2 separate regions of the Homo sapiens genome follow, and region 1 is linked to region 2. The links come from fine-mapping of genetic effects on gene expression. A gene starts in region 2. The other region holds a variant in brackets. All regions are shown on one strand. Distances are between the middles of the regions.

Region 1 (2,801 bases), 180 kb before region 2:
CCTGCCCAGGAATGATTGAGTTTTTCTGGGACTCTGGACTTTCACCCTACTCTTTTCCCACTCTTGTCCCCATTCTCAAAAGAAAGAAGGCAGTTGGTCTGTGATTATGGATGTGGTTGGCCTCAATGAGGGGACCACTGTCCTCAAACCCAGGCACTGCTCTCCCACCAACAACCTCCCTCTCCAGCAGCCTGACCAACTCTTGCTCTACCTTTCAGTTTCAACACATGTCATCACCCCAGAGGCTGTGTCATCTTCCCCAAAAAGAACCTTGTGCTTCTGTCTACTCCTATACCAAGCATGCACCCACCTCCACCTCCAAACCAGACCATGAGCTCCAATAGGCAGCGCCAAGGACATTGCTGGCCTGGCAGAGAGAAGAGGCTCCAAGACATTTGCTGAGTAGATGAATAAGTGGATGGGCAAATGGTGTTTAATTGCACCTTAATTGTTGTCTGTTCCTTACCTATTTATCCATGTAGTATTTTTTGATGCCCCTCCCCCTAGCCAGACTACCAGCTCAACTGAAAACTGAGGCTGGATCTTTCTTTGGGTCTTCCCCACAGTGCTGAGCACATGCACACAGCAGGGCACACTGTAGGTGCTCAGGAAAGGCTTTGAATGGATGCTTAAGGACACTTGCTGCCTGCAGTAAACTTTCTCAGGCTCCCTAGAGCATAGCAGATACGACTGCAGCTTTTTAAAATACTTCACACCCTGATCTGCATCAGTGGCTGCCTTTGAGCCCAGCACCCAGCGTGGCTGCTTCTCTGCAGGTCAAGGCTGTGCCTGATTGAAGAGGTAGGGGGTCAAGTACACTGGGCAGAGCTGGAGGAGTTCCTGTACTGTTTCCTCTGATCAGGAGTGGAACTTGTGTTGGGAGATGCCAGCACCTGCCATTTCAGCTGGCTGCACCTCTTAAATGATAGTGGTCTTGGCATACCTGTTCATCTGTTCGTCTATCTGTCTTGGGGCATCTCCAGCTTTTTCACCCACTCCCTTCCCCACACATCTCATTGGCCCTCTGTAGGCACCAGGTCCCATCCATATTCACAAAGATGAAGCCAGCAGAGCAGCTGTTCTGTTCCCTGGGGCCTGATGTTCTAAAGGGGAATAATGACTACTCATGAGTGTGCTTAACTGAGTTGA[C/T]AGATGCTCATAGCAGACTGGACTTACTGTTCCTTGCAGTCTTCACTGACTTCAGTGTATACGGAGAAGACCAAATTCCACCCCTAGGCAATACTCTGGTTTCAGACTGAAATTTGAAGACAGAGTTAAGAACCTAGTTCAAGGGGGGCCACTGGAAGCACCAAAAGTTGTAGCAACCGTTGAGTCTACCTGTTCAGATGGTTTGTTTTGCAGGAACCACACATACACACACACACACACACACACACACACACACACACACACACACACTGCCTTCAAACTCCTCTGACTTGTCTTCATCACCTAACCAGTTTTCAACATACCCCACCCGTGTCTACCTGCTCAGCTCAAGTCAGGGGTGTAGCTCAGCACATTCATGGGTGATCGTACCTCACCATCATTCCCAGTAGTAAGCCCCTGTCTCCTTAAATTGCTTACCTGCTTATCTGGATTAAATCGAGCACCTGAAATGGGCCAGACACCATGCCCATTTAATTTAGTGCTCAAAGTTTATATATTAAATAATTTAGTGTTCAAAAAGAGTACTCTGTGTATTAGCTCCATTTAACAGATAAGAAAATCGAGTCTCAGAGAGGTTAAGTGACTTACTTAAAGGTACACAGTGGTGAAACCAGAATTTAAAACTAGGTCCTCTGATTCCAACCACTGCTCTTTCCACTACACTGCCCTAATTACATTTAAACATCACACATAACTGACCACCACTGCCTCTTTGTGCACCAAGACCTCCTCCCACACACCTCTCACTTTGCTCTGTTACCCAAAGTCAGGTGGCAACTCTAACTCTGAGTCTTCTTCATGCCAGTCATTGAGTCCTTTCCAGACACCTCTCCAGTTCCTCTCCCATCCTTCTCATTCCATTCCTACTGCCTCTGCATGGGAGAGTCCTCACCAGCTCTCCTTGTGTAACCATCACAACCTGCCCTCCCCACCCTTCCAATGTCATCACCCCATTCATTCCCTCCCCACAAAACCTCAGACTTTCTGCCTCTCTGTACTAGTCCTGCCCCTCCTAAGTAAGCCTTGCTGTCTCACAACTCTGCAGATGACAACAATGCTGCCCACACACTCTGCCTGTGAATTCCTAGTCATCCTTCAAAATTCAGTTCAAATGTTACCTCTGCTGAGAAGCGCCCGCCCCAGCTCTCCCAGGCAGAGATGGGTGCCCATCCTTTGACCTTTTTCAGTATCCTTATACTTAGCCCTCCCTGTCTCATGTCCTTTGCCACACACTAATGCAATCATTTAGTGTATGTGTATGTGTCTTCCCTATTACTCTCTGACTATCTCTTATCTGTCTTTGGCATTTTGTTTTGTGTGTGTGCATGCAGGCATGCATGTTTGACCTTGGGTGCAGACAGTTGTGTTAAACGTGCTTCTTGGTTTCATGGAACTCCATCATCACTGGCCCATGAAGGCCTCTCTTTTATCCCTATTCCCACCCTCCTTCCCCTCCTCCTCCTATTTGTCTCTGTGTGCCCAGGGCCTAACACAGCACACAGAAGGGTGCTCAGCAAATGCTGCTGGGTGCAGGAGATGGATGACAAATTAGTCATACACCCCATTTAATCCCATCCCTTGGAGATTTCATCAGTCAGCCAAAGTGGAGAATGGTATGGTTTAACTGGCAC
Region 2 (2,801 bases):
ATACACTGGGAGGGAAAGAGGCATCGAAGAATTGTGAAAGAAAGGAAGAAAGGGGGGAAGGAAAGAAGTAAGAAAGGAGAAAAAGAGAAGATGCTATATCCACCAGCTACATTTACTCTAATACTTGATGAACATATTACATAACTATCAGTATAAGTGTGTTTTACCTCGTAAATACAAATCTCACACCTTGTACATGTGCATACCTGTGTTTCTGAGCAGCACACATGCACCTGGTATCTCACCCATCTCAAGGACAGCTCCTCTCCATGACTTCCATATGTGACCCCTGTGCACACACATACACAGTCCCGCAAAGTCCCGGGCAACAGCCCCGCCTGTGTTAGTGCAATAGCTGAGGGGCATCTACTTGGTGCTGTTAAAGCACACATCCAACCTTCACTCCAACCCCGTAGGATTAGTACACGGATTCCTGGTTCCTAGATCCACTGGTAACGCAGGGAGAGGCAGAGGTGATTCAGGCGGCGCCCCTGACGACTATTTCCAGAGATCCTCTCCCCTGCCCCATTCCAGCCCAGTCACTCTGAGAGCGCGAGGGACAGGCCAGGCCGAGGCTTCTTCGTACAGTCACACCCGTTTCTGGGCTGACTTTCCCAAAGCCTCAGAGCAGCTCTCCCCACCCTACCCCGTCCAGCCCCCTCGCCGTCTCGCCCCTCCCCAGCCCCGAGCTAGAAGTTCAGCCTCAAGACGGCAGCAAACGGCAGAGCAAAGGAGTCGTTTTCTTTCACCTGAAAGCCGCGAGGAGGCTTGGAGCGCCTTTCCTCGCTGGGGCCCGAGCTTCCTGGGCTTTGGCCGGGTGCGGGCAGACCCCACCGGGGTCCTCGTCATCTCCCAGCCCAGCCCGCAGAGCGAGTACCGGCAGATTTCAAGGGCGCGTGAGCCTGGCTGTCGGCTGGGCCCCTGAGGCTCGCTGGGCGGGGGCAGGCCGGTCCAGGCTGTGCGGGGCGTTTACAAAAAGTGACTTGGAGATGAACTCGCCCGTGCGCGGCTGGCCGCCCCGCTATAGGGGCGAAGGCGCCTGACGCAAGCGGAACTCGGTGGAGCCCATACGAATCAGAACAGAGCGAGGCTCCTGGCGCACTAGGGACTCCAGGAGGCAGCTCCGCCAGAGACGCGGGTCGTGCTTCGGGAAACCGGGGGGCGGGGGGAGGGGAAGAGCGCAGAAAAGAAAACCCACCAAGGCGGGGACTGGCCTGAGCGGGGAGGGGCGGCGAGGCCGGAGCCCCTCTCTGTTGGGCGGACTCCCCATGGCCAGAGGCTGAGCTCCACTCCCGCCGGCCGCTCCCTAGGGGAAGGGGAAGGAGAGGGGAGAGCAGCGACAGGCCTCCAGCAAGCAAGCGCGGGCGGCATCCGCAGTCTCCAGAAGTTTGAGACTTGGCCGTAAGCGGACTCGTGCGCCCCAACTCTTTGCCGCGCCAGCGCCTGGAGCGGAGAGCAGAGGCGGCCCGGCCGCGGCGCGCCGGCTTTGTCATGATGGCCAGCTACCCCGAGCCCGAGGACGCGGCGGGGGCCCTGCTGGCCCCAGAGACCGGTCGCACAGTCAAGGAGCCAGAAGGGCCGCCGCCGAGCCCAGGCAAGGGCGGTGGGGGTGGCGGCGGGACAGCCCCGGAGAAGCCGGACCCGGCGCAGAAGCCCCCGTACTCGTACGTGGCGCTCATCGCCATGGCGATCCGCGAGAGCGCGGAGAAGAGGCTCACGCTGTCCGGCATCTACCAGTACATCATCGCGAAGTTCCCGTTCTACGAGAAGAATAAGAAGGGCTGGCAAAATAGCATCCGCCACAACCTCAGCCTCAACGAGTGCTTCATCAAGGTGCCGCGCGAGGGCGGCGGCGAGCGCAAGGGCAACTACTGGACGCTGGACCCGGCCTGCGAAGACATGTTCGAGAAGGGCAACTACCGGCGCCGCCGCCGCATGAAGAGGCCCTTCCGGCCGCCGCCCGCGCACTTCCAGCCCGGCAAGGGGCTCTTCGGGGCCGGAGGCGCCGCAGGCGGGTGCGGCGTGGCGGGCGCCGGGGCCGACGGCTACGGCTACCTGGCGCCCCCCAAGTACCTGCAGTCTGGCTTCCTCAACAACTCGTGGCCGCTACCGCAGCCTCCCTCACCCATGCCCTATGCCTCCTGCCAGATGGCGGCAGCCGCAGCGGCTGCAGCAGCTGCGGCTGCAGCCGCGGGCCCCGGTAGCCCTGGCGCGGCCGCTGTGGTCAAGGGGCTGGCGGGCCCGGCCGCCTCGTACGGGCCGTACACACGCGTGCAGAGCATGGCGCTGCCCCCCGGCGTAGTGAACTCGTACAATGGCCTGGGAGGCCCGCCGGCCGCACCCCCGCCTCCGCCGCACCCCCACCCGCATCCGCACGCACACCATCTGCACGCGGCCGCCGCACCGCCGCCTGCCCCACCGCACCACGGGGCCGCCGCGCCGCCGCCGGGCCAGCTCAGCCCTGCCAGCCCAGCCACCGCCGCGCCCCCGGCGCCCGCGCCCACCAGTGCGCCGGGCCTGCAGTTCGCTTGTGCCCGGCAGCCCGAGCTCGCCATGATGCATTGCTCTTACTGGGACCACGACAGCAAGACCGGCGCGCTGCATTCGCGCCTCGATCTCTGAGAGCCCACCGCATGCCGGTGCAGACGGATGCGAGGATGCAGGGACGCGCGACGCCGGCCCCGGTCGCAGCCGACGACGCCGCCGCCAGCCTGACCTCACACCCTCTGGGCCCGCCTCTGGAGCCAGCGCCCAGGGTCCCTCTGTGCTTTTTCGCTTTCCTAAGCTCCTGTCGCTCCTCT

Evidence for each region. PIP is the estimated chance that this variant, and not a neighbour inherited with it, causes the effect. A credible set is the group of variants that fine-mapping cannot tell apart.
Region 1: its variant is the best candidate, but not a certain one, in a credible set for the expression of FOXL2NB in pituitary (GTEx, PIP 0.63).

The regions. Positions count from the first base shown.
Region 1 is chr3:139,128,406-139,131,206 of GRCh38, reverse strand. No RefSeq gene overlaps it. Among named protein-coding and RNA genes, the nearest start is that of BPESC1, 26 kb to the right of the region's middle. The variant C/T (reference allele first, on the strand shown) is at 1,150.
Region 2 is chr3:138,945,413-138,948,213 of GRCh38, reverse strand. FOXL2NB (FOXL2 neighbor) reads right to left here and starts at 997. Exons shown (of 3, transcript NM_001040061.3): 1 at 750-997. The coding sequence starts at 849. FOXL2 (forkhead box L2) reads left to right here and starts at 1,077. Exons shown (of 1, transcript NM_023067.4): 1 at 1,077-2,801. The coding sequence starts at 1,492. The coding sequence ends at 2,622. RefSeq lists a silencer at 833-1,061.